Linked DNA regions of Homo sapiens: all the other regions are linked to region 2. The links come from fine-mapping of genetic effects on gene expression. A gene starts in region 2. Each other region holds a variant in brackets. All regions are shown on one strand. Distances are from middle to middle.

What was found.
Region 1: its variant is fine-mapped to the expression of TBC1D20 in CD4 T cells (Kasela 2017, PIP 0.95).
Region 3: its variant is fine-mapped to the expression of TBC1D20 in monocytes (Quach 2016, PIP 0.95).

The regions. Positions count from the first base shown.
Region 1 is chr20:435,656-441,346 of GRCh38, forward strand. TBC1D20 (TBC1 domain family member 20) reads right to left here. Exons shown (of 8, transcript NM_144628.4): 6 at 4,593-4,734; 7 at 3,453-3,640; 8 at 1-3,186. The coding sequence ends at 2,931. Among named protein-coding and RNA genes, the nearest start is that of TBC1D20, 24 kb to the right of the region's middle. The variant C/T (reference allele first, on the strand shown) is at 2,768.
Region 2 is chr20:457,775-465,502 of GRCh38, forward strand. TBC1D20 (TBC1 domain family member 20) reads right to left here and starts at 4,759. Exons shown (of 8, transcript NM_144628.4): 1 at 4,562-4,759. The coding sequence starts at 4,631. RefSeq lists silencers at 4,142-4,290, 4,359-4,848, 5,129-5,198.
Region 3 is chr20:622,985-630,712 of GRCh38, forward strand. No RefSeq gene overlaps it. Among named protein-coding and RNA genes, the nearest start is that of TCF15, 17 kb to the left of the region's middle. The variant G/A (reference allele first, on the strand shown) is at 3,457.

The DNA.
Region 1 (5,691 bases), 23 kb before region 2:
TCCCTCCACATGTTCAGCTCTTCAGAAGCTCCCGTGTTCCTGGGCCTTTTATGGAGACGTCATTGGATAGGCATGGCTGAAGCATGGCAGCTGTGTTGAGATGAAACTGGACAAAAAGCATAAGGTCTAAACCCAGCAAGGCCTGTCTGTCCAGATGCTTCTTGGCCTCTCTGTGCAGCGTTCCTCCTTCCGGGTATGGGGCAGCACCCTCTCTGGAATGAGGGTCTTATGAGCTACAGTCAGATTAAAGTCTGGTGTTGAGCAAGTGAAATGGGGCAGGAGAAGGTCACAGACAGAGATTCCGTTTTCTGAGGCCTGCAGTGTCCCAACATTATAACAAAGGGTTATGGGAGTGATGAACCAGGAACTGTGGACAAAAACATCTACACACGTATAAAATATCACAGTGCCCTGGGCTGCAGCTGGAGTGTGTGGGTCATAATTCTTGCAGATGAAACAGAAACAGCAAGACTGTAGGTACTGCCCAAGGTCTCCTAGCCAGTCAAGGCTGACCAGGAGTCCACAGACCATGGCACAGTTCTGGGCCTGACATGGAAGGTGGGAGCATCCAGATCAGAGACCATTCCCACTGAGCGGTGGCCAAGGACGGAATGACAGAAGAGGTGATTAGTAACCACATATGGCTGTTTATTTGATACAGGGCTCTGTACAAAATATTTACACATATTCTTTACAGAATAAGTAAACCACCTGAAGGTAATTAGATAATGCTTTCTTCTCAATGACAGGGAGAATCCTGGTGTCAGCAAAGTTAGAAAACAGATAAACATTCTCCTTCCGAGGCCACAACTCAAGCAAATGCCACTTGCTTCCTAGGATCTGAAAAGCTGTGGCCTTGGGACCCTGGTCACATGCACCTCCTTTCCTCAACCCCATCAATTCCTTCAGTATTTACAAACAGGCTTGAGTACTTGTGGAAGGAGGGGCAGCTGGTGCCGCCCACTGAGAGGATGACAAGAGGGCCAGCTTGCTTTGGGAGAGCACTGGGAATATCTGCCGCATCATCACCTCTGGAAGAATTTCCTTTGCCCTGATGAATACACCACTGTCTAAATTAATCCATCGACATCACACTTACCCCACAGTGGGGCTCCTGAGCCATGGACAATGATCCATCCCTTTGAGCTTTTTTTGGTTTTAAAGTGCGTAGTGGTGGCTGGGCGTGGTGGCTCACACCTGTAATCCCAGCACTTTGGGAGGACGAGACGGGCAGATCACCTGAGGTCAGGAGTTCGAGACCAGCCTGGCCAACGTGGCGAAACCCCATCTCTACTAAAAATACAAAAATTAGTCAGGCGTGGTAGCAGGTGCCTGTAGTCCCAGCTACTCGGGAGGCTGAGGCAGCGAGAATTGCCTGAACTTGGGAGGCGGAGGTTGCAGTGAGCTGAGACTGCACCACTGCACTCCAGCCTGGGCAACAGAGTGAGACTCCATCTCAGAAAAAAGAAAATAATAATAAAATAAATAAAAATAAAGTGCTTAGTGTAACTCAGCGGACAGGGCTCCCAGCTGCTCTGGCACGTGGGACACCCTCCACCCTGCACACAACAGGCATGCAAAGAGGACTGGATATGGTGGGGTAGAGTGCTTCTGGTGTGTTCACTTTAAGAAAACATCTGCCAAGAGAGAAGAGTGCCCAGGAAAGACCAGGAAAATACAAGTACATGGCTGCTTCATACCATATACCCCAATTCTTTAAAGCAGCAAAAGGCACTTTTTTTTTCAGGCCAGAGTGAATCTAAAACAAACCTGGCTTTGCTTACAGGGAAGCTGTCCCAGAAGGACTGAGTGATGCCTCTTGTTCCCTAAGGTCTGGAGAGTCTTTGCAAGTTTCCAACGACATTTCCAACCAGGTGGGAGAGACCAGCAGTTGACGAGTCAAGTCAGACCCAAAAAACGACGCCAAGGTAGTGAGTGGGTGCCTATTTGGGAGTAGGATGATTTGAGGAAAACAGGAAGAAAAACCGGTCAGAAAGTGGCACTTTGGAAGTGGAAAGCTGTTTGCAAATAGCAACTCTGGCTAAAGCGAAAATGTTAATCAAGTAGAAAGTAAAATTCAGGATCTTAGAAGCTCATCCTTCTGATGAGAACTATTTTTTTTTCCGTGAAGGAACTATTATTACTTTAAAAGTGAGGGTAATTTACATATGGGGTGTATATATTCTAAAAATAGTAATAAAAGTACCTTTTATAAGCAATGTTGTGTGGCTTGTAGAAGAAAGCAGGGAGGAAAAAAAGGCAGGCAAAACTAGTCTAGGTCTAGGCCCTAAAAATGAGCTTCCTTCCCACTTGACTGGAAACGCCCATGTGATTTCTAGGCTGAAAATAGGTAGGATTTAACGAGTAACCTAGTTCCCTTCTGTCTCTGATTTCTGATCAGCTGATGGAGCTGCTAGTAAGAGGGGCCGATCATGCTCCCAGACGAGTCCTTTGGCCTCTTGCTCTCCATCCCAAGCCTGACTCCTTCAGCAGCAGCCCCCTCCTTCTGTGTCCATCTGATGCAGGCAAGCAGGAGCAGTAAGAGGGCATCCCATGTTCCAGTTCACCTTCTATGGGGTGACTAGGAGGTTCCCGGTAACTAGGGCAGCCCAGGCCCAGCAGGTTGCAAAAGCAGCTGCAAGCTTCAGAAACCCACTTCCTCCAACACCAGGGAGGTGGCAGAGAGCCCATCCAAAAGCCCACTGGGAGAGGCATAAGATTCTGTGCCAGGCCCCCAGGTCCCCTCTGTGTCAGGTAGGCTCTGCTA[C/T]TGGCCTCTGAAGTAAAGGCAAACACAAACGGGCAGGGCAGGGTGGCAGGAATAAAAAACTCTGGACAGAAACCCTTTTAATAAAGGAAATTCCACCCCTCCCAATCCTTCCATGGAAGGGTGAGACCTTAATGTGATGTAAGAGGAAGGTCTTCTCTGGCTTTCAGGGAAACAGCTGCAGCTGAAACTTAGGGGCCCATTCCAGGGCACTTTTCACCACAGCCAGTGCAGCCGCTCCAAGTGCCACTGTCAGCCCCATCACTGCCAATTTCACAAAGCGGTTGGTCCTTGGCTTGGTCAGGACATCTTTTGTTCGATCTTCAGGCCGCAGAAGTCCCCGAAACCGCTGCCGCAGCACCATATCAGGCCTCTGCTGGGCTGATGCCAGCTCAAAGTCTTTGAAAGTAGAGGCTGCCGTCCTGCAGGGGAAAGAGACGGAAGGAAGGAAGTGGTATGAAAGAGGAGGAGGAAAGCAAAACTACACCACATAGGCTGCGGGCAGAGCCTTTCATTGCTGGGAAAGCTCTTTATGATAAAGACCCATATGTCTACAGTGGGGATTCCACTGGCCTAAGCTCAGATCTCTGGAAACATGCCCCAACCCTATCCCACCAGACACAAACCTTCCCTCGCTTCTGCTCATTTACAGCCACCCCCATTCAACCAGTGTCCCAGCCTTGCTCACCTCTCAGCTTGCTGTTGGGCAGCGGCCTCCCGAGCAAGTTCGGATGGGGGAAACTGAACAAAAAGGTCTCCTGCTCTGCTGATCAGTGTCTCATAGGGCAAGTCCTGAGGGATCTGGGACAACAGGTGGTGGACCGAGGCCATGTCACAGTCACAGTCCAGGACTTCCTGCTCGCGATACAACACAATCTGTGGGGAGGTAGTAAAGCCTTGCAGTCAGAGGCCAGACACACAGGGCCTGGGCCACCTGCACTCCATTATCCTTGCAGATGAATTTAAACTGGTAACAGACAGGACTCAGCCCAAATGTTGAGCAAACTCTTGTATCCATCAAGGAAGTAATAACATATATACGCTCAGTGCTACTCCTACTCTCTGGCCCTTCCTGCAAACTTCCACCACATGACATGAAAGGCTGACCAGTTACAATCTAAGTCCTTCGGGCATGCTGGGCTGCTCAGGTGTCCCTTTAAGTCTTGAAAGAAATGAAGGAGATTCTTTTAGGAGAAAGTAGGAGAATTATTGGGAGATTCCTGGAGCTCCAGCATAGAAGAAATGGTTCAAAACAGTAGAAAGAACAGTCTTGCTCCCTTTAAGCATCTTCCTTCTGACTGTTGGTCCACAAATCCACAGATGCTCAAGGGACCAGTGGTCATTGAAGGACTTCCCTGAATTCCCATCTCCACCCCATCCCTCAAGACCCTTCTACTAACTGAAGCCCCTACCCTCCACCGCAAGCCGCCTCCCTTGTCTGTCATGACACCAGATCTCTTCTTTTCTTAAATCTGGAGTTGACAGCTTACGCTACTATTTCCCTAATTGTGTTCATCAGCTGAACATATATTCCAGACAATGTCAACAGGAACCCTGACAATTCACAATGCAGATTAGCATTTTAAAGGTTCAGAAGTGTCATGCAGCAAAAAAAATCTGATTTTGTTTATACCCAGCATTTCCCAACTTACTATTTTTTGTGTGTGACACCCCCATTAATACTGCACAGAATGGTGTCCAGGGACACCAGCCTGGGAAGTGCTGTCTTTTGCATCTTTCCATAATCCCCAGGTTTCCCTTCAGGGAAAATGACCACAGTGGGATGGGTGATGGTGAACCCAGCTGCTGGCTCGTGGCCTGTACCTACCACGGCTGCAAAGTAAATCGGCATCAGTGGGTGGCAGGCCAGGAAGAAGTCATATAACCGCACGACGTGCCTGAAGTCAGACAGGACATGCCCAAACCAGGTGATGAGCCAGCTGAGGGCAAAGATGGTCCCTACCTCAGCACTAGAAACAAAGGAAAGGCAGGTGTCAGGTCCTGTGGGCCATCCCTTCCCTCTCTCTGGGCCTTATAGCGCTGGTGAGAAGGAAGCATTTAGGAATAAGATTTCTGGAAAATTCAGTTACCTAGGAATTCAGCATCTTCTCCTTACAAAATATTTAATACAAAGTCTTTAAGGTGTACCACAACACTAACACCACAACAGGGTCCTGGCTGCTTTATCTCACTGGGTGCTCGCCTACTGGCCAACAAATGTCAACTACAGGAACGAGAAGCAGTTGTTTTCAGAGAACTACGCCATGATTCTCCTTCTGACTAAGTCTTACCCTTCTGGGGGGCACAGGTACATATTCCCAAGCCTGAAAACATGACTGCATTAATTTTTCTGTTAACATGAGACAACTGAAATATCTTAAGATGTAGCTGCCAGACACGGTGAGTCACGCCTATAATCTCAGCACTTTGGGAGGCCAAAGCGGGCGGATCACCTGACATCGGGAGCTCGAGACCAGCCTGACCAACATGGAGAAACCCTGTCTCTACTAAAAATACAAAATTAGCCGAGCGTGGTGGCGCATGCCTGTAATCCCAGCTACTTGAGGCTGAGGCAGAAGAATCGCTTGAACCCGGAAGATAGAGGTTGCAGTGAGCCAAGATCATGCCATTGCACTCCAGCCTGGGCAACAAGAGAAAATACTCCATCTCAAAAAAAAAGAAGGCATAGCCATTACCTTTTAAAAAATTTTAAAAAAAGAGGCATTGGCCAAGAACACATTTCCAACTAAACAGAGAAGAAACAAAACATCACATGGGATTTGCAAAAAAATATTTCTTCTCTTTGGTACTTGGGAAATAAAACAACCCATTGTTGGCCTTCCCCTTCTCGCCACTGGATCCCACAGGACTTTGTGTTTCTCTTGTGGCAATAACCTCAACATCTTACCTTGGCATACATACCTTAT
Region 2 (7,728 bases):
GGAGGGATTTTACTTTGGGCCTGAGGGCCATCCTTTGGAAGACCAGGCTGTACGTTTTCAAGAGGGGTCAAAAACATGCAGGAAACAGAGAAGCCTTTTTATATAACATCGGTGGAGGCAAACCATGAGAAGAATTTAATTTCCAACAAAGAGAAAAAACCTAACATATTTAATTTTTTTTTAACTTGGGAGTACCCCTGCACTTTCCACACATCACAAATTGACAGCACTTGAGTGGCAATACTGAATACTGCTTGAGGGAAGCTGATATTCAGAAGTCTTGTTAACCTATTTGCTAAGAGTATGATAATTTTTCTTCAGTTTGTTTAGACATACATCCACCCCATCTCTCTTTCTAAATAAGCTATTCGGCAATCTGGGAGAAAGGAAATCTTGTATCTTGGGGAAAAAAACCACTATGCAGTCAACTGAATTTCCATGAGGTTTTGGCAAACCATTTGCCAGAATGTTACTTAATTCTGAACTCAAATCCTCAAATCATACCTCCCATAACTCATTTCTCTTAAGACTCTGTTCCAATTTTTTTTTTTTTTTTAGAGACAGGGTCTTACTCTGTCACCCAGGCTGGAGAATAGTGGCACGATCATGGCTCACTGCAGCCTCAACCTTCTGGGCTCAAGTGATCCTCCTGCCTTAGCCTCCCAGGTAGCTGGGACCACAGACAAGCTCCACTGGCCCAGCTAATTTTTGCGTATATATATTTTGTAGAGAAAAAAAGTGTTGCCCAGGCTGATCTCAAACTCCTGGGCTCTAGTGATCCACCCACCTCGACCTCCCAAAGTGCTGGGATTACAGGCGTTGAGCCACCATACCTGGCCTCCAATTCTACTTTTAATCCTGCATTTCAAAATTTACTTACTATTTCAAAATTTTTGGCACTCTGTGGGAACGCAACAAATACGTGCAGAATATAGTAAGTGATTTAGTTTAGTTATTGTTCCTCTGGAAAAAACTGGCTTGCAGTAAATGACATTATTTTTCCCATACTGTTAAGGTGATGCTCACTGCAGAACTCTCTAAACAGATCTGCAGACTCTTTGGCCTGTTTCTAACACTACCGGTGTTTCCCAGAGGAGGATGCTGTCCCAACGTGGATTTCGGCTGCTGTTTTTTTCAGGCCCCAACACCACCCTCCTCAACCCCACAGCCTAGTGATTAAATGTCAGTGGCAGATGGAGAAAGCACTCCCACGTGTGCCACTCTGACAAATACTTTATTCCAACTAAATGTATAGGCTCTCACTGTGACATAAAAAGGGAAGAGGAAACAGAAAATTCAAGTGAGCTAAAGATGTATGAATTACAGAGTGAGATCAACTGCTAGACGACACAGGGAGGGAGTTAGCAGCGTCTCCACTGAAAGACAAATTCACAGACATCCTGTTTATTTCCGAAAGAGAAACATCATAGAGCTATTCTTGGGATGTTCAGGAAAAGATTAAAATAAATGCCTATTATCTATTGTATTTCGAGATAAACTTTATAGATTTAGAGCAGGACACACATTTCTGGACTTGAGAACGCTGTATCTGGCTTGGAATAAAAGCCCACATTTCATCTAGAGGTAGAATGTATGTCATTCTAATCTCCCTCAATCCTTTCTTCTCCAATTTCTTTATTGCCCCACTTACAAGATAGTGCACTATTATTCCAAAGCTGATACCTTCCAAATTCCTTTATAGTAGAGGTCTTGGCTATCATAACCATGATGGAACGAATGACCGTCCTACAGCTGGCTGCAAAATATAAGACTGCTATAAATAAATCCCTGATGCCTGAAAAGTAATTCATTCAACAAAGGAAGATAGGTATGACTTTGGCCTACTCTTCATTAGAACGCTTATTTTTATTTATTTATTTATTTATTTATAAAGAGGGCAAAGCAGACTTTATTTGAGGGGCACCACAGCAATAGGTATAGCAACAACTGCAACAGGGTTTTGTAGTCAGGGAGGGAGATCAGACTCAACTCCCTAAAATGCTAATTTTAACAATGGGACACTTCATCTGAACTGTGGTTCTTAATGGTTCAGATAAAGATGACACAACCCACTATTGGCTTAAACTTCTCCCAACTCTGGCTACAGAATCCAGGTAAAGATTTCTGCCCCCTCAGAGTAATAGGCATGTCCAAAATCACCTGGATTAGGGCACTTAATACACTGGGAAGGGACGATAACAACTAAAGATGACCACTATCCATGCCTCCTCTAAAAGTTTTTTCATATATTTTTTCATATCACCAAAACAAATACTAACTTGGATCAACTAATTTATATAATGGAATCTCGTGTGAGCGTACAAAATTCCATACTGATTATTTGGTTTAAGCCTGCATTATCATAAAGGCTTTACAGTCTTTAAACTGAAATTAAGCTCAAATTAAGAAATGCTAGTCTTAAAACAATGGAAGGGGGGGGCCGTTTTGTGTGGAGGGAGGGAGACAGACATACCCCTACACCCACCCACAACTACTGATATTGACATTGGAAATTAACTTGAAAATTTATGCCTGTAGTCCCAGCTACTCAGGAGGCTGAGGTGGGAGGAGCACTTAAGTCCAGGAGTTGGGAGATGACAGTGAGCTTTGACTGTGACACTGCACTCCAACCCGGGTGACAGGGCAAGATCCCATCTCTCAAAAAAAAAAAAAAAAAATGCTTTAACTCCACGTCTGTACCAGAAGACCACAGCAGGAGAGGAAAACCTTATTTCAGTCTGGGTAAGAGTTCTATTAAACACAAAATAAAACAAACTAGCCTCTGTTTCTGGAGGTCTTCATTAGTAGTTTCTACAAAACAGTATCCAAATTAGCAAAGATTCTGTTAACTACCTGGAAAAAGCAGGTACCAAGAAAGAATGTTTCACTACAATGGAAAAAAACAGTCTAGTAAGTAAACCAATCTGACTATAAACGCTACAAAAGAGGGATTCTAGCATTAGTAACTTTGCCAACAATACTCTGATATGATTAAAAAACAAAACAATAACAAAAACAAAAAACCTCATCTTTAAATTTGTCCCATTCATCCAGAGAAGCAAAATCAAGGAAACTAGAGGGGGTAAAGTCTTGCAACAGATACACAGCTGCACTGCCAACAGGTCACAAGACCCATGCTGCCTAGGGCATTGACTGTTATGCCATGAGGACAGACATCACACAAACACCAGTAATTAAAGGGTTACGGTGCCAAAGGGTTCAGAGCTCCACTTCCATTCAGTATCAGAACATAAGAAAAAGGGAAAAACAGAAAATGAGCCCAAATAAAATATAAAATAAAATATAGATACCAGGAGCTTCCTCAAAATATGTGGGTTGTATTAATAACGTGTTTGGCTCTGTTACGGGCACCATCCATCAGAGGACTGGAAATAGGGAAAGTCACCTTAGTCTTCCTCAAGGAAAAAAGATTATTTAACTTGGTTCACGGTGTACATTCATAATTTTAACTGTCATGTATTTATTGAATGAAAAACATTTGAGAACATCATGTGCAACAAAAACATGATTTCACAGAAATTGTCCAAACTAAAAGAGTATAAAAATAGAAGCGCTTTTTATACAATTATTTACTTATTATTATTATTGAGATAGGGTCTCCATCTGTCACCCAGGCCGGAGTGCAGTGGCGCAATCATAGAGTAGCCTCTAAGTCCTGGGCTCAAGCGATCCTCCTGCCTCAGCCTCCAGAGTCGTTGGGATCACAGGCTCGAGCCTCCACACCCGACTAACTTTTAAAAACTTTTTGTAGAGATGAGGCCTCGCTGTGTTTCCCAGCCTGATCTCGAAATCCTGGCCTCAATCGATCCTCCAACCATGGCCTCCCAAAGCGCTGGGATTACAGGCGCGAGCCATGGTGCCCGGCCGCTTTTACACAATTGAATAACATTAAAATAGGTGGCAGAAGACAGACAGAAAGTCGATTCGTGGTTGCCAGGCGTCGTGAATACCGGGGAACGCGGAGTGCCTATTAATGGGTAAGGGTTTCGTTTTGGAATCAGACAGCGGCGATGGCTGCACAACTTTGTGAATTTTCTAAGAATCACTGAACTGTGCACCTTAAAGGAAGAACTGTGTGGTAATTACATCGGCGGTACGCGGGCAGCGCGTCAATCAAGCCGGCGACGGTGAATGCAGTTCGGGAGAGCTGATACCCCTCGGGGAGGCGGCTCCGGGAGCCTGCGGACGTGGCGGACGCCTGGGACGGGGTGGGCCTGGCCTCCGCGCTCGAGGAGTCCCAGTCCTCTCCAGATGGAAGAAAGCCGGGGCGCGAAGCCGCCGCCCGCTCTTCTGCCTGGGGACGCGACTCTGCCGCCAGGCTCCCTCGGGTCAGCTCGGCACCCGCCCGAGCCCCCCCAGTTCCAGGCCCTCTCCTCATCAGACGTGCCCTGGGCCCTCAGCCTGTTCCTCTCGCCGCCCGGAACCCCGCAGCAGCCCCGGGTCCCCAGCCCGCGCCCCTCCGGCGCCGCCTCCGCCAGCTGCCCCTGCCCCCCGGGCCGCCCTCGCAGGCCGCTCCCGGCGCCCCGGTCGGCTTCCGTACCTGCCTTCTCCGCGCCGCCGTCCCAGTGGCCGGAGGTGGGGCCGTCGCCCTGCGCACTCCGGAGGGCCATGCCCCGGGGCCCCGGGCCCCCACCCGAGCCCCGGCTGGTGGCGGAGCCGGGAGAAGACGCGGCTCCGACCGCGGGACGTAGCACCCGCTCGGCATCGGCAGGCTCCCCTCCGTCGGCCAGCGGCGCGCAGGCGCGCAGGCGCCCCGCTGGCCCCGCCCCGCGCCGGCACGTGACCCTGCGCTACGCCCGGCCGGCGGCGGGGGAGGCTGCGGAAAGAGCGCGGTGAGCGCTCTGAGGAGTTGGCTTCGTCTGCGCTGTAGACTCTACGGTGTAGAGTGTGGCGCTCTTGAGCGAGTGTGCTCGAGACCAGCTGTCGTTTCCTTTGCTTCTTTCATCTGTAAAATAGTATTGATGATAATAAAAATATTGAACTCACAAGGTTATTGAGAGTGTTTAGAACATCACCAAGCATATAGTAAATACTCCACAATTATGACCAATTTTTGCTTACCAAGGATTATTTTTTTACCTCCTGTCTCGTCTCCCCACACGAACTCCTGTCATCAGTTCTTGGGTACTTGGGGATCTAGCAGGTTCATGTCATACGGGTCCGCAGGTTATGCACTGCACAAGGCCTGGGAGCGCCATTTACGTAGACGTTCACGTGAACCGTGCCCCCTTAAGTTGTGCGAAATAGTGGCCACTCATCTAAAGCAGCGCTCTGGCTTATCAGGTCTGATTTCCTTCTCGTCTTCAGTGATATTCCTTTCTTTCCAATTAGACATCCATTCCCTTGGTTATATCCCTGATATTGTGATTGTGGCCTCCCGAATTTCTAGTGCTAGGTCTTCATGCTGAAGTTCCCATAATTCCAGTTGCTTGATGACTCTCTTCCACCTCCCACCCCCAACCACAACAGTTCTTTATTATCCTGAGACCTCCAGCCCATGAAACTCCTGACCTCGTGATCCGCCCGCCTCAGCCTCTCAAAGTGCTGGGATTACAGGCGTGAGCCACCGCGCACAGCCAAGTTTTACAGTTCTATTCATAAATCTAGTAAATTATATCAGTTATTTGGTCCCATTAATAAACTAAGCTAATTAAAATCCTTTGAACATTTGAAACTGCATTTATAAATTCAATTCGTTTTTCTAAGTATCACAGGTTTCTAACAAAGCCTTTCAAGTCCTTGTGTAATTCTTGTAAATGTAATACATTTATAAGAATACTGAGTCATGAGTGCTTTCAAATGTGTCAATACAAACGAGATTTCATCTTAAAATCAAAAGTCTAAATCTATTCAAATACATATTTGTAATTAGTACAAGAATAATCTGTTAGAATTCTCAAAATTATCTTTTTTTTTTTTTTGAGACAGAGTCTCACTCTATCACCCAGACTGGAGTGCAATAGCGATCATAGCTCACTGCAGCCTCAAGCTCCTGGGCTCAAGCTAGCCTCCTGTTGCAGCCTCCCGAGTAGCTGAGACTGTAGGTACACACTACCATGCCTGGCTAGTTTTTTTAGTTTTTATAGAGGGGGTGGGGAATCTCCCTATGTTGCCCAGGCCGGTCTCAAACTGCCTTCGCCTCCCAAAGCTCTGGGATTACAGGCGTGAATCACAGTGCCAAGCTCTTGAAATTATCTTGAACATTATAGGAATTTAAAGTATCACATTTACACAGATGCCTTAATGCAAAATTATTAATACTAGAAGTTTGAAAACATTTCTAGTCTTTGTTCTAAATCATCTGTGAGGCTCATGCCTGTAATCCCAGCACTTTGGGAGGTGAAGGGCTGCAGATCACTTGAGGTCAGGAGTTCAAGACCAGCCTCACCAACATGGTGAAACCCCATCTCTACTAAAAATACAAAAATTAGCTGGGCATGGTGGTGCCTGCCTGTAATCCCAGCTACTTGGGAGGCTGAGGCAGGAGAATTGCTTGAACCTGGGAGGCAGAGGTTGCAGTGAGCCAAGATTGCGCCACTGCACTCCAGCCTAAGAGACGGAGTGAGACTCCATCTCAAAAAATAAATAAATAAAATGAAATAAATCATCATTGAGGTTAAAAGATGCTTAGTGCCCACTGAAGGAAGATTTAAGTCATCCCAGTTTAAGAGTAACGTGCTCAAGCAATTTGAGATATTTATTCCCTTCTCAGTTTACTGCGCTGGTCATCCAGCCAGCTGGATTCTTGCTTTTGGTAGTGATGGAACAGTGACCCCCACCCCATTCCCACCACCACAACTCTAGGACTAAACAGTTGTGTGGTCGTTGTGAAGCTTGGGCCAGAATTTACTTTCAAAAAATGTCCCGCTTCATGTATAATATAAAGACCTTACAATAAATTCCCATTTCTTCCCTCCTGTTCTTCTTGCTGTTGTCCTACATTTTACTTTTTAAAATCCCTTCCTTCTCTTGCTTTCTCCCCTCTACCCACCAACCACTTGCAAACAACCACTGATCTACATCCTGTCACTATAGATTGGTTTTCATTTTCTGGAATTTTTTATGGACGGAATCATATAGTATGTAGTCTTTTTTGTCTGGCTTCTTTTACTCAGCGTAATTATTTTATAAGCAATCATGTTGCATTAATCAATAGTTCATTTGTTTTTGTTGTTAAGTAGAATTTCATCTTAGAAATATACCACGATTCATTTTATCAGTATTTTAAATTTTTGCATGTGCTGCAAGTACACAATTCATTGCTAATATGCTTGCCTTAGACCAGGCGGTTAGCAAAAAAGATGGTCTGCCCACCTGCAAGCCAAAACCACTCTACTGCCTGATTTTGCACGGCTCATGAACTAAGAATGGCTTTTACCTTGATAAATGTTGAAAAATCACAACTTAATTGTAGCACATTAAAACTATATGGAATTTAAATCTCAGTGTCCATAAACCTTTACTGAAACAGAGTCACGCTCATTCATTTACCTACTGTCTATGGCTGTTTTCATGCTGCAACGGTAGAGTTCAGTGGTTGCAACAGAGATATGGCCTACAAAACCTAAAATATTTATTATCTGCTCCTTTATGTATTTATTTATTTTATGTGTGTATGTATGTATGTATTTTTTTGAGATGGAGTTTCACTCTTGTTGCCCAGGCTGGAGTGCAATGGCGCAATCGCAGCTCACTGCAACCTCCGCC
Region 3 (7,728 bases), 170 kb after region 2:
CTTCCCTAGGACTATGTATGTGGGGAAGCAGAGTGGGTGAGGAAAGGGCAGGATTGGAGTGACTGGGTTGAGCCAGTGTGGCCAGGGCTGGAGGACATTTCTTGGAAGTGACAACTCACTGCCCAGCTGGGGAATCCTGAGGATGGGAGAGTGCAGGGCAAGCCTTTGAAGATGCAAACATGGGTCGTCTCCGGGGCCTCCCTCCTTCCTGGTCTTGTGTGTCTCCGGCCCTGCCAGTAAACAGGATCTCTGGGCAACTGCCTGAGAACCCTGCCCAGTGCCCCAGAGGCCCTGACGTGCTCCTTCCTGAGCTATAAATCAGGTACCTTCCAGCTGTGTGACATCCTGGATTTGATGGGGAAGGCAGAGCAGACAGATTTGTTGCAAAGAGCTGTGCACTGCACCTTGATTTCCTTGTTAGCAAAATAGGAAGGATAGGAGCGTTGACTTCAAGCTGTGGCTGTGAAATCGAGTGAGATAATGCATGAAATTCCTCTGTAAACAGAGATGCTTCAAGGACGCATTAGTGGGTGGAGGCACAGGGAGCAAATCCCAACTCTGCCGCTGAGCTCTGTGTCTTCACCTGTAAAATGGGGTTAATGTGAATCACTAACTTCCTAGGGCTATTGAGGGATTCAAAAATGGAGAGAAAAGTCTTAGTACCCAATGAACGTGCAATAGATATTAGCTGTTATTAATGGTAACTATTACCATAATGATAAAGAATCAGATGTTATTGATAAGCCATTTGGGAGACCGAGAGTCTCAGTTCATACCCCAGAGGGGACCATGGACTTGGCACAGCACGATTTCAACCCTGTGCCTTTTGTGTATATTTCAATCTGGTCAGAGACTATCTCCCACTCACAGGCCACCTCCTCCCCCTACCCCCAGAAAGGCTATACTTGTGAGCACACCACTTCCCTAAAATATGCCACAAGAGTCGACATCTAGCCAGGCACAGTGGCTCATGTCTATAATCCCAGCAATTTGGGAGGCCAAGGTAGGAGGATAGCTTGAATCCAGGAGTTCGAGACCAGCCTGGGCAAGATGGTGAAACCATCTCTACTAAATAATTTTTTAAAAATTAGCTGGGTGTGGTAGTGTGCACCTGTAGTCCCAGCTACTTGGGAGGCTAAAGTGGGAGGATTGCTTGAGCCCAGAAATTCAAGGCTGCAGTGAGCTGTGGTTGTACCATTCCACTTCAGCCTGGGCAACAGGGCAAGACCTTGTCTCTAAAAAAATTTAAAACAAACAAACAAACAAAGAATAAATATCTAGCCTTGAAGCCAGCCTTGGGGGTGGGGTGGGAGGAGGACTATTTGTGTGCAGGAGTTCAAACCCAGGCCCCATCACTCCCCAGATGTGGAAACTTAGACATGTTATTTAATTGTCCTATGCCTCAGTTCCCTCAACTGAAAAAGAGAATAATAATAGTACCCATCTCTTCTAGTTGCATTGAGGACTGAATGAGTTAAAAAGTACCCAACACACCATATGAGATAATGCTATTTTCATTCTACCAATGGGTAAACTGAGGCTCAGCTAGGAGAAAGAACTTGGTTCAAGCTATCAGTCGTGTTGTTTATTGGCCCTAAGTTGTGACGAGTTTCATTATACCATTAGAAGCCCCCGAACAGTGAACTCATTGTTTGTGAGGTATCTCTATCTCTTAGTGATTTTTTAGTTAAATGAGAGTCCATGCTAATCATTTATAAAAAATGGATAAGATAAAAACTTAACATTGAAACATCCATGGGCTTCTTTCCATAAGAAATGGAGAAACTCTTGCTCCTAGTATTAAAAGGTCGTGGGTTCCAGTTTGAGATGCACCAAGCAAGGTAATAGGAAGTCCTTGAAGGTTCTTGAGCAGGGGGAAGCATGAACTTAAAGCATATGAACCATGTGTTTGGGTCAATTCAAGTTACTGAGACTTAGACATTGCTGGTGGGATGCAAATTGCTACAATCTCTGTGGAGGGTGATTGAGTTCCACAAATATTTAAGATAAATGTAAGAGCTCCTACCAAATGCCAGGTGCTGTTCAGGTGCTAAGGATTTGCAGCAAATAAATCCAACCAAGTCCCTCTGCCTGGTGCTTATTTTCTGGAGAGGAGACACACAATGAATGAATATACAACTTAGTATAGCGTGCACTGGGGAAAGAAATAAGAGCATTTCTACAATAATGTTTACTGCAGTGTGAAGGGGGATCTGAAGAGGCTGGACAGAGCCAAGTATGGGTGAAGATGTGGAGATAGCGCTGGGGGTGTGTGGACTGGAGCTGCCATCTGGAGAGCAATCTGTCCAGTTAAATCTGTACATTGGGTGCATAAATTATGGCCACCAATTATTTGACATTCCTCCCATCTAGATGTAGGTCTATGTATCTGCTCTCTGAATCTGGGCTGGCCTCTGACTGCTTTGACAAACAACTATGGTGGAAGTGATGATGTGTCAGTTTCCAGGCCTAGGCTTTAAAAGATTGGCAGCTTCTACTTCCTCTTTCTTGGAACAATTACTTGAGGGGAAGCCAGCTGCCATGAAGAACTCCAGCCACCCCAAGACTGCCATTCTGTGAGGAAGTCCCGCGAACAATGGAAAGAAGTCCTCTAGGATGAGACACCATGTGATGGAGAGAGAGGCCAGGAACATCAAGGCTGTAGACATGAGTGAAGATGCCATCTTGAAAGGGAACCTCCAGCCGTAGCTGTTTCAGTTGATACCACAAGGTTCAGAAAGGAGCCACCCAGCTGAGTCCTTCCTAAATTCCTGACTCACAAAGTAATGAACAAAGTGGTTGCTTTAAGCCTCTAAGTTGAGGGTAGTTTATTGTAGTGCAAAAGATAACCAGAATAGATATATCCGATGACCCAGCAATTATACTCCTGGCTATATGTCCAGACAAAATTCTCTTATCAGCCCATAGAGGATATGGCCATATTGTTGTGGCAACAGAGAGTTAGAGGCCACTCAGGTATCCATTACTGGGGTGGTAGAAAGGAATACATGGTAGGTGCAAAGAGCTCTAGGCAGCAATCAGAAGTCACAGGTGAAGCCACACATACAAGTCTGTTATGTTCTACGTGAAGACTTATACACCACAGAATGCACAAAGAACCCATCAGAATCTATGGAGGTGCAGAAAATATGAAGGGGAAATGGGATAAAAAGGAATAACTAGAGAGAGAGAAACAAAACCAAACAAAGGAGGGTGCACAGGGGTAAGTTATGATAATCTGCCATGAATTGAGGTCTTATTAAACTCAACGCTCTACATTTAAAATCTAAAAAGTAATAACAAAGGCCAACAAAATTAATGTGTGTGAATAGGGGGTTGGTTAAATAAATTGTAGCACATCCACATGAGGGAGTACTGTAAAGCCATAAAAAAGAGTGGCAGAGCTTGCTATGTACTAACATGTAAGAGTCCCAAAGTATGTCGAAAAGGCTATAA[G/A]AAGGGTATTGAAAAGGATGCATAATAGGCTTCCATTTGGGGGGAGATACCAGTGTGTGTGGTTGTGGATATGTTTATAGACAAATGGTATATCTGTGGAAGGATGCTCCTGGGGAAAAGAGCCAGATGTCAGGGGAGAGGGGTGGATGGCACTTCAGAAGAGCAGGCACCCAGGAGCTGTGTTCAGAGAAGGAATTGCCACTAACACTGGGACCACCTCCTCCAGGCCAGGATCACGCCAGGTGTGGGGGCTCAGAGTGGGCAGAGAGCCTCTGCTGCTTCCAAGATGCCCAGGGTCCTGACTGTGTCCATGATGCAACCTCAGCCAACAAGTTGGTTGGGCACTGCCCACTGCTGTGCCCTCATCAGCCACTGTCCTCACTTCATTGCCACTCACCATCACCACTCTCCTTCATTCTGCCTGAAACACTCCTCCCCACTGCCCGTCTCCCTCTGTTACTTAATACTCAAACTAGTACAGAGAATAACAGAATAAAATCCCATGTACTCACTGCTCAGTTTAAGGAATAATACTTTTCTTTTCTTTTTTGAGATGAAGTCTCGCTCTGTTGCCCAGGCTGGGGTGCAGCAGCGTGATCTCAGCTCACTGCAACCTCCGCCTCCCAGATTCAAGTGATTCTTCTGCCTCAGCCTCCTGAGTAGCTGGGATTACAGGGATACGCCACCACACCTGGCTAATTTTTGTATTTTTAGTAGAGATGGGATTTCACCAAGTTGGTCAGGCTGGTCTCAAACTCCTGACCTCGTGATCTGCCTGCCCCGGCCTCCCAAAATGCTGGGATTACAGGCATGAGCCACTGCGCCTGGCCTAAAACTTTTCAAAAAGAATTGAGAGTGAATGGTTTTAAATATGTCCACAAATTCTTGGACACTCCTCTCTTCAAAAAGTAGAGTTACATTCTCCTTACCTTTGAGTATGGGCTGAGCTCAGCAACTCATGTCTAATGAAGAGGATGTGGTGAATGAGGATGGGTCACAAAAGGGATACAACTTCTGCTTAATTGTCCATCTGTCCGTCTATCTCTCCATGCTCACTTTTGGAATCCAGCCACCATGTTGTGATAGAACCCAAGATGCATGGGCGGGCCCACATGGAGAGGAACTGAGGCCCTCTCCCCTCTTCCCAGTCCCTGATCAACAACCATCACAAATTTGCTAGCCACCCAGATGAACCCCCTTTGGCTTGGCAGCAAATTCTCCAGCTTACCCTCCAACTCCCCAACCCGATAGGCCTTCAGATGACTGCAGGCCCAGCTGACAGCTGAATTTAGCTTCCTGAGGACCAGAACCACCCAGCTAAACCATGCCCATATTCCTGCCTTCAGAAACTGTGAGATATAAAAAATGACTGTTAGTACTTTGAAAACATTATGTTTTGGGATGATTTCTAATGCAGGATCGATTGCTAATACAGAGGGTCCCTGGTATCCCTCCCCACCATCCCCATCCACCCTCTTAGAAGCCACAATCCTGATGTTTATTATTTCCATGAATGTTTTACCTTTTACTACATATAATAAATCCTTACCCAATACATAGGACTATATTTCCTTCTTTTTTAAAGAATTTTTTCTTTTTGAGATGGAGTTTTGCTCTTGTTGCTCAGGCTGGGGTGCAATGGCGCGATCTCGGCTCACTGCAACCTCCGCTTCTCGAGTTCAAGCGTCATTCTTAAAAATGTATAGAAGTGCATATATATTGTATGGATTCTGTGCATCCTACCTCGCATGCTCTTTTCCTTGCACAGTGTGCATTGGCGACCCATCTGCATTGAGGCAGGCAGCTGCCATTCGTTGGCACTGCTGGGCATTCTTCCCTTATATGAATATGTTAATACCACGATATAGTATCTGAAGTCCATGTTGATGAACATTTGGATGGTTTTTATTTTTTGCTATTACAAACAACAGCGCTGGTAACATCCACTTGCCCTCTTCCCTCTTTCACATGGCACCTTCTTGTTCTTGGAGGTCTCAGCTCTAACAATGTAACCCCACCAACCCCCCGCTCCAGCTAATGGGTTCTCTGTCCCCACATGTGCCTCCCAAGCTGGCTTTTGATGGTGCTCCCTCTGTTTTTCCTTCTGGCATCTACTCCGTGTGGTCAACATTCAGTTATCTTTTCCTGTCTGGAGCTAGAGGGTAAGCCCCATGAAGGCAGGCAGAGTAGTGGGTTTTTTTCCCCAGTCCCCTCCATCCCTGATGCTTTGCACAGGGCCTGGCACACAGTAGGTTCGCAAGAAAAATTGTTGGATCAGGAATGGCTGAGAATTAGCTTCCTCTCTTTGGGCTTCAGTTTTCCCATCTGCACAGTGAAAACTTTAGATAATTTCGGGGTGATTTTAGGTTTAGCCTTTGAGAGGTGCCTCAGTGGCCGCCACAAAATATCGGAAGACCCCAACTTTCAGCAGAGCTGGCCTTGTTTCCCTTGTGTCTTAGATTGGTCTCTATGGCAGATTATGTTTAAAAAGAATAGCCACCATTTATTGAGCGCTCACTACGTGATAGGCATGCTGTCAGCTGGCAGATGCATTTCCTCATTTTGGCCACTCATTAACCCTCAGAAGTAGCACTGTTACTATGCTCTTTATAAAGAGGGGTAAACTGAGGCAAAGAGAGGTGAAGTCACTTGTCAGAGGACTAGCAAAGGAGGGAGCTGGGATTTGTAGCACAAGAGACTATCAGAGCCCATTCGCCAACCCTGGTGCAGCCCTGCCCCACTGGTACCACAGCTTTAAAGAAGTGGGGTGGGAGGCAGAGGAGGAGGACGGTGAAGGACAAGGGTGAAGAGAAATGTTTGGATAAGTTTGACAGCCACTCTTCTGAAGGGCTTTGCCAGCCGCAGCATTCGGGTGTCCCTAGTCACGGGGGCTCCGTCACTTCCCTATCCCCCTGTTTCCCGGCCCTGATGGGTCTTGCTCTGTCACCCAGGAGGCTGGAGTGCAGTGGCGTGATCACAGCTCACTGCAGCCTGGAACTCCCGGGCTCAAGTGATGTTCCCCATCAGCCTTCCTAGTAGCTGCGACTACAGGCGTGCACCACCATGCCCAGCTAAGTTTTAAATGTTTATATAGACACAGGGTCTCACTATGTTGCCCAGGCTGGTCTCGAACTCCTGGCCTAAAGCAATCCTCCTGTCTTGGCCTCTCAGAGCACTGGGATTAAAGTGTGAGCCACTGTGCCTGGCTGAGATTTATTGATCACATAGATACCTATATTATTCTAAGTGTTTTTCAAGTGACAACTCATTTAATCTTCATAACTGTCCTGTGACGTAGATAGTATCAGTTTTATCAGTATTTTATGGAGATTAAGTAACAGAAGCACAGAAAGGTCAAGTAACTTGCACAGAGTCACACAGCTGGTAAGATGTGGACCCAGCTTTGAATCCAGGCAGTCCAGCTCCAGAATCCTTGTGCTTCACATCACCACACGCTGCCTTCACCATCACGTGTCAGTTCCACACAAGTGGATGCCCACAATGGTTGGGAGTAAGGGGAAAAGGAGTAGGGCTTGAGGAAAAAATAAAAGTGAAGCGTGTGATGATAATGAGCTATGCTTGAGAAATGGGATTAACTCAGCTCTCTGTACTTGATAGAAAAAAGAAGGAGAAGGAGGAGAGGAAAGAAGAAGAAGGAAATATTTAACTGGACTCTCCGGGGCTTAATTATAACAACTGTCTGGCACCTAAGGTCCTTCCCTAGCTGGGCTTGCTGCTTCTCTAATCTCATTTCCCTACGTTTCTCACGGTGCTCCAGTCACTCCAGGCCACACCTGATCCCAGAAACCTACTTGTTCCTACTTTGAGCCTTTGCTTGTGCTGTTTCTTCCATTAAGGGTGCCCTTTTTGCCAGGTGCAGTGGCTCATGCCTATAATCCCAGCACTTTGGGAGGCCGAGGTGGGACAATCACCTGAGGTCAGGAGTTCGAGACCAGCCTGGCCAACATGGTGAAACCCCGTCTCTACTAAAAACACAAAAGTTAGCCAGGCGTGGTGGCAGGTGCTTGTAATCCCAACTACTTGGGCGGCTGAGGTGGGAGGATCGCTTGAACCTGGGAGGCAGAGGTTGCAATGAGCTGAGATCATGTCGCTACACTCCAGCCTGGGCAACAGAGCTAGAGACTCCGTCACAAAAAAAAAAAAAAAAAAAAAAAAAGAGTGCTCCTTTCCCCATTTTAGGAACTCCTACACATCCATCAAAACCTGGCCTAAAGGCCCTCTCCTCAATGGAACCTTTTCCAGCCTTTCACT